Homo sapiens: one gene and its partner. The protein of the gene in region 1 interacts with the protein of each later gene in a biochemical or structural test. Each region holds a gene or a part of one and is shown in the gene's direction. Other genes may lie near its edges.

Region 1 (3,925 bases):
CTCAGCACCTACTTCAGTGTTTGTGGATGCGTTTACCCCTCATCTTCAGTGTTCTTAGAGCCAATGAGGTAGCCTGACATATGTATTAAGTGCTCAGTAAGGGTCTGTCAACTGACTAAAACTTGCTGTACAGGAGAAGAGCTCAATACAATTTGAACATTAGGCTGTCATTCTTACCATTATCCAGGAACAAGTTGTAGAGTTCACTAAGATATTGATTATTGGCAATTAAGAATGTCTTAGTGATCAGATCAGATCATTTTGTATCTAAAATGTCCTGATGTTTTGAACTGGACATAATAGACCAACTGCTTCTTTCAAATAACTTTCCAGACAAAAAATTTATCAGAATACATGAACCAAAACAAATTTTTCTTGACCCACTGAACAGGTGTATCTTATGGGAAAAACTACAGTGGCTTTCCTGTAAGGAGGCTTAACTATGAGTCATAGAGGAGAGGTAGATATTTTAAGAGCTTTTAAGGAATAATTTCTTCCAATTAATGAAGGAATTCAGGATCTTTGAATTAAGTGAATTATAGTGCTGCAAGGTACACTAAGTTCAAATGTTTAAGTATTATTATTAAATATGTAATGAATCAGATTCTGTACTTCTCAGTCACATCTTACTGCTTTAAGAGCCACATTAACAATAAATTATACCCAACTCCTCTGGAAGAATTAACTTCTTAATTTATGCTGGTTATAGAGTCTGAAATTCAATATGTTGTGACTCTCAGTTTGATCTATTTATCCTCTGAAAACAAATTGTAACCACATATAAAAAATATTCATGCCTTTTTCCCAAATAATAACTAGCCTCTATTCAGAAAATTAATTCCTTTTCATTGCAGAGTTGCAATTTTCTTTATTTCATTTCTCTCTCCTTTTTACGTATACTGTGGTTGCTTCCAGTCAGGGAAGTTTGCCAGGAGAAATCATTTCATTGATGAATTCATTTCTACTCTCATGTCTGCACTAGAGATTCAAGATCTTGCTTAAAATTTTATGTTGTGGGAATTTTGCTTCTGGCAAAAATTCAGGTTTTTCTGGAAGCATAAGCTGCGTTTTCTCATTCCCTTTAACTCCGAAAAGATTTGAGTACTGTCTAAAGTGAGAGATTTGCTTGACCACCCATTTGCTGACCGTTCAGACTGTTGCATGGAAATGGAACCCCCTCAGTCAGGACCAGAAGATCTCAAAGGAAGGCATAATTAAGAAGATGAGCCTGTGTTTCATTTTCAGTTACCATCTGCTCAAGTGTCTACTAGGTGCAGTTTCAGCACTGAGCATTTTATGTACATTTTCTCATTTCATTCTCCTCAAAACCCTTTGATATTGGTGTTTTCATCTTACACCTTTTACAAATGAGGGAACCCGGCACAGAGAACTCAGATAAGTTGCCTAACATCACAAATCCTGATTCAGCCTGTGTATTCCTTCCCAATCCAGAGCCTGAGGCTTTTCCTCTTTTCATTCCCAGGATCAATTTGCTGTTTGGCATTCACTAGCTTGCTTTCATGTGATGTGATGGTACATTTCACAGTCCCATTTGCTTTTCTGAGGATCCCTTTCATGATTTTGCCCATGTACTCTTGTATTACTTTTTTATCCTTTTTTGAAAATTAAGGCATAATTTACATTTTTACCATCTTGAAAGTTTTCACCGATGCATATGGTCATGTAGCAATCACTGTGATCCAGATACAGAATCGTTCCAGCCATGCTACTTTAACTACTCATTCACTAGATGTTCACTAAGTGCCCGACATCTGCAAGGCACCATGCTAGGCGCTGATAATTCAGCTATGCATCAACATACAGAGACTTAAACTCATGATGCTCACAACCCAGTTAATCTGATTCAATCCCACAATGAAAACTTTCTTTAAATCTTGTTTTAAAGATACTTTTTCTGTTCACAACTAGTCGAAAATAAGTCTTTTCCAAATATCTCTTAATGTGTTGAATATGTTAACTCTCAAATACTTTAAAATGCTTCCTGCTCCATTAAGAATTCCAATGGTAAAAGTCAGAGCCAATTTAAACAAGAGAGAGATATGTGTGTATATACATATATAAATGTATATATATGCATATACATAAAAGTGTATATATATATATGTGTTTGTGTATATATATATAAAATATATACATTTAAATTGTATTTCAACTTTTAGTGTCTTATTGAGATTAATTCCTAGAAGTAACTTCAGATTACAAAAGGAAACCAATTTTTCTCTGTGTTTAAAGAAATTAAAGAAATTAAAGAAAGAAAAAATATCATATAGCACAATCTTAAAACACTTGTATTTTAGAAATGTCCTGTTTAATACCATAGCCACTAGGCAGATGTAGCTATGTAATTTAAAATTTATTAAAATAAAACAATTCAGTTCCCTAATCACACCATCCACATTTCAAGTGCTCAGTAATCTGTGTGGCTAGTGGCAATCACATGGGACAGTGCAGACATGGAACATCTCCATCTGGCAGTGTTGTTTTGGAACAACAACAAAAAACGCTGGTAAAATAATGATTGATAGAACTCATGAGGAGTCATCAACTCAACTAGAAAAATTTCTAAAGTCATTGAAATTGTTTGAAGTGTTCGTGCATGTGAGTTAGTTATGGTTTGTGTTGTGTTAGCCTGCAAACATCCTAGAAACATGATGGGGCCTTTGGTAGAGCAGTAATAGGTGAAAAGAGTTCAGTGGCCACTTTGTAGCCTTTATGGACTGAGGTTGAACAGAAGAGATTAACTGCTGGTTCGGGAGTGAGTGCTCTGCTCCCATAGTACATTTTCCATAATTTGTTCTGTTATCCACTGTATTGTTTTTCAATTTATCTGTCTCCTTGACTCGACCACATTATTTGAGGGTAAAGAATCCATTCTTACATTCATCATTCATTCATTGTTAAATTCATTCATTGAAGAATTCAATGAAAAATTCAGTCAACATTGCATTCTTGAACTTAGCACTTACAGTAGGTGCCAATAAATCTTTAATGTATAAGGTTATAGAAAGATTGTACCATGAAGCTTCTTAGAAAAAAAAATAGTTGTTTGTTGTTGAGACTGGCCAATTTTCACTGGTCTTTCCCTCTTTTGATTATGATCTCAGTCCGGGAGTAAGGTCAGCATTCACCTTGACCTGTCCATCTTTAATGTCACTTCTGGTACGCGAACTTCACTTTCACTGATTCTCCCAGAAATACACGTAAGCATATAGGCATCCTCTATGAGGTTGGAGCTGTCATGAATGTGATTAATGCCTGTACAAGCATTACATAGATCCAGACACTATCTGTGCATGGAAAATAAAGTTCCTGTGATTGATACTGAGTGTGTACTTACAGAAGCAGTCTTGAGTGAGCTTTTAATTCTAGAGGAGTTGGCACCAATGAGTTTTGGATACATCCCAGGGGGCCAGAACATCAAGTCAGCTAGTGTGCCACTTTGTATGTGTACAAGTGCATGCGCCTGTGCTGCTCTGGTGTTGGGGAGGAGAGGGCAATGAGGGATGCAGGATGGTCAGTAATGAGTAAATAAAGTATCTTGAGCCCATGAACACTGTATTTTCAGTCAGCCAAAAGCTATCATATTGGTTTAAGTCTTCTCTAGTCAAGAAGGCCGTAAGAGATAGTGACACAAAACAGTTTTGAAAACCAGGCAAATGATGGGAAGTGCAGTTTTATCATGTGGATGTACGTGCTTTTGGAGTTTGTCAATAGTTTTATCATTAATCCTAGAGAGGATGTGCTACACAAGTTTAACTCTGCACATAGCAAATATTTGAACTGAGTTGAATTCAAATGGAATGGGACATGGGATCAGTTAAAAATCTTCATAGGAGTCAAAAGCAGAAAAAAAGGAGATGATCTTTTGTTAGGATATTTGCTTTATTTTCTTCTCAACTACCTT
Region 2 (3,925 bases), on another chromosome or scaffold:
ATTTCAACATTAGTGTTAGTGACACTGGCACCTAAAGTGAGCCCTTTTCATTTAGTGCTGGAATTTATATAGACCATCCTAAGAGGCACTGATGAGTTTGATAGTGCCTTCAGTGAACTGAGATGGAAGACTGATACTGTTGTTCCACCCAAGATGTTTTTGTAAAGAACAGCTGGGCTTTAATGTCATTGTGGTTTGTGTGGTTTATACATGCAACATTCTGTTTTAGTGCCCAGTGTTTTAGTAATGGATATAAAAATGACTTCTCTGGAAATGCAGATTATCTTCTAGTTTCATGCCTCTGAGCATCTGTGGAGCTTCCCCATCACCTTTTATCAAATGACCATAGAATCCAGCAGTCTGTATCAGCTGTTGTCAGATGTTGGTGACAGGCAAAAGGGCTCATTTCTACAGCCCCGAACCTGCCAACTGTAAACAGGTAGGTTGCATGAAGCTATCAGTGGGTGTCTCTGAAGAGTCACATGCTTAATTCATTTAAAGAATATACTCCACTCAAGTCTTAAATAAGGTGTTGGAGCTGCTGAGTGGGGAGGTTTATGTAGAAAGGCTGTGCTCCAAGGGCTTCTCTGCTATTGGCTGTAGGGAAGCATTGTGGGCATCCCAAGCCCTCCCTCAGTGGCCCAGTACATTTGGCAGCTGGACCAAGCCCTTATGCATCATTTGACACATCTAGCAATGCTGATTTCAGTAGGAGCCAGGATTCTGCCATTAAAAGGCAAGAAAATTTGGCCAAGCATTTTTCAGCAGGATTGGAATCAAATGATTATTGATAGGATCAAATAAGACACTAAGTGTAACTGGATGAGCTCCCCATGACCTCCAGAGAGACAGCCAGCCTATTGAAAAGCACTTCGGGCCTTGTGGTGATCATACTTGGAACAGCCTGGTCTCTCCTTTCTCTGAGGACATATGCTGTCTGCAGTTAGGCAGCTGGCCATGCAGGACTAGCCTCTCTCACATTATCATTGCCTCCCCAGCCTCATTCAGATACAGTCTCCATTGCAGACATCCCCATGGAGTAGATACACCTTGCTATACCATGTTCTGTGTTTCAGACAACATGTATCATTATGGTTCCGTTCATTTTCCCTATGAAAATTCAAGGTTAGGTTCTGACACTGGGATTGATTTTGCTATTTATCATGTTTGGAGAAATGGGTTTATTATTTTTATATAGGCTCTGATTTATAGAAAAGGCATTTAACTCTTCTATGATGTGGGCTCTTCAATTATACAGAAGGAAAGTAGGCACAGCTCAGCTTATTTTCTTCCTGTGTCTGCCCAAGTGTCTTGTCTGGAGGTACACAATGATGCTGATGGGGCTATTTGTGGGGGAGGGAAGAGCTGATTGTTCTTCCATGTTTTGTGGTGAGGGGCCTGGAGCAGCCCATTTGGCTCAGACCAAAGATAGCTTCCTAAACCTGAGCAGGACCATGACTAAAATAGTAAAAATGAAAAAGCACCAGTTAGGAGAAAGCAAAACCGTTGCATTGCTTGTGATTTGGGCTGTCTGAGAGGACAGAAAGATGTCTGAGAGGCCTTATAATGCATGAAATGCTAATGGTTTTTCCTTGTGGGTTACTGTGAATTCAGAAATAGGATCGGCATTTCAAGTCTGAGGCAGATCCCAAATTCACCCATTCATGGAGAAGAGGTGAAGAGGCAGTTTCTGGGACTGTATTAATGGTTCTGGCCTCTCCCAGGACAGCCCAAATCATAGAAAAGATGTCTGTCTGCAAGGCTGGCATGTTGCCCACAGCTCCAGTTTGTATCCTGGCTTACAGGTGTTTTGAGATCTGTTTCTGCTGTCACCCAGGCAGAGGGCTAGGGGATGATGACTCATGGGATAGGAGGCCTATTTCCCTGTAAGCACTCCCTCCCCACCCAGGAAAGTGGATACATGACTTTGGATTTTACATGTACTATGGAGAGGCCTGAGCAATTTAGAGATGTATGCAATGCAATATATCTGACCTTTGAACTCCCATATCTGTCAGTCCCTTCCCATTTCATTTCTGGAGTGGGCAGAGAGAGCAAAGGAGGATGGAGAGGAAATTGGAGCTCCCAGAAGGGATATCAGTTATTGGAGGTGAATTGGGAGAATTGGAACTAGTCCAGAGAAGAGCAGAGAGCTGATTTAACAGTTGAAGGGACTGATTTACAATGAAAGATGAAAAGAATTAAATATATATGGCTGGGCTAAATGGCGATGAAGGGAAAGCCATGGTAACAATCTACAAATCTCTGAAGAGAGAGAGTGGCAGTGAAGGAGAGGAGTTATTTAGCGTGGCCCATGGAAGTAATTGGATCATACTTGTAGAAGCAAACTTCGGGTTGGATATCAGGGAAACCTTGTTTTCTGACATTGATATTCCTCTGACTATGGAATGGAATTCCAATGGAGTGGGGAGTCAGGTGAGATGTGGGTCAGACAAGTCCCAGCATTCCTAATTAATCAGTTCTATATTTTCACATATTGAGAAGCTACAACAGGACAGAGAGCTGGGATGCAGAATGGCAGAAGGAATCAGAACCTTTTTATGATCCAAACCCTGGAGCCTTTGGGCATTGGTGTTTTTAGAGGAAAAGAAAAGAATTGCATATACATCTTTGAAGTTGGTGAGAAGCACTTAAGAAATTGTTAATGACAAATATTTTGAAATTACTGAATTTATTCTTCCCTGCCCTCCAATTAAACATAGATTATTTCTCTGGGGTGCGATCTGTATATCCAGGGGTTTGGGAGGCACAATCACCAGAGAATTGTGTATCTAAGATACATCTATGGGTGAGGGTATATGACAAAGCATCACTGAGCAGGGCAAAAGGTGACCTGTGTCTTGAGAAGATGCCATCAGTTCTAGATTTGGTGGACTCCTACTGGCTACTTAAAAATCCCTTTAAATGTTGAGAATCTATATTGCCATTTGAAAGATGAAGTTCATCCACATCCAATTTAACATTTCAAAAATTTTTAAAAGAGAAAGAAGGTCCATGAGGGGTTTTTGTGTAAGGCATGGGAGGAGAGTGTGATTATTAATAAAAATGGGTATCTAGGCTGGCCGCAGTGGCTCATGCCTGTAATCCCAGCATTTTGGGAGGCCGAGGAGGGCAGATCACTTGAGGTCAGGAGTTCGAGATCAGCCTGGCCAACATGGTGAAACCCTGTCTCTACTAAAAATAAAAAAATTAGCCAGGCATTGTGGCATGCGCCTTAGTTCCAGCTACTCAGGAGAGTTGCTTGAACCTGGGAGTTGGAGGTTTCAGTGAGCTGAGATTGTGCCACCTCACTTCAGCCTGGGCAACAGAGTGAGAAAGGAATATCTATAAGGAAGTTGGTCTGCTGAAAATCAGGAGGAACTGGCCTGAAGGTGGGAGAAGAAAAGAATGAGAGTTGATCAGCAGAAGTCTCAGTGCCCTGCCACTCAGGATCACTGCCTGGCAACCTCACAACATGGAAATTTTTCCAGTCTGACCTGTAAAGGAAATTTTGCCTTTCTTTATAATCATTATTAGTGTCCTGTTATGGTTATTTGGAACTTTACAATTTATAAAGCATGTTCACATTTATTATTACTTATTAATCCTATGGTAGGCAGGACAAATGTTTGCTTTATTTTGTAAATGAAGTAACTGGAATCCAGACCATATTTTTCCAGGTCATATAGCACAAAATGGTATACACCTGGAAACTTTCATACTGACTAGAACCACAGTTCCCCTTTCCTTCAAGTCAGAGTTCTTTCCACTAAGGGAATCATCTCCAAGTGCAGATTACAAAGAGCAAGACATGTCAATAGGTGAAAAAATTTCCAGTATCCTTGCTAGAAGACCATGCAACAAATATTTGGTGGGCAATAGCCAGGGCTTGGAAAAATTCCTTGAAATCATTGAGGCCCAGCTT

What was found.
Region 2: of the proteins of PTPRZ1 (region 1) and ALK, one has a biochemical effect on the other in vitro, tested with the Homo sapiens proteins (one study listed by IntAct).

What each region holds. Positions count from the first base shown.
Region 1 is NC_000007.14:121,875,840-121,879,764, forward strand, and holds part of PTPRZ1 (receptor-type tyrosine-protein phosphatase zeta isoform 1 precursor), read left to right. Parts: intron 1-3,925. UniProt on the Homo sapiens protein: Protein tyrosine phosphatase that negatively regulates oligodendrocyte precursor proliferation in the embryonic spinal cord. Required for normal differentiation of the precursor cells into mature, fully myelinating oligodendrocytes.
Region 2 is NC_000002.12:29,914,672-29,918,596, reverse strand, and holds part of ALK (ALK tyrosine kinase receptor isoform 1 precursor), read left to right. Parts: intron 1-3,925. UniProt on the Homo sapiens protein: Neuronal receptor tyrosine kinase that is essentially and transiently expressed in specific regions of the central and peripheral nervous systems and plays an important role in the genesis and differentiation of the nervous system.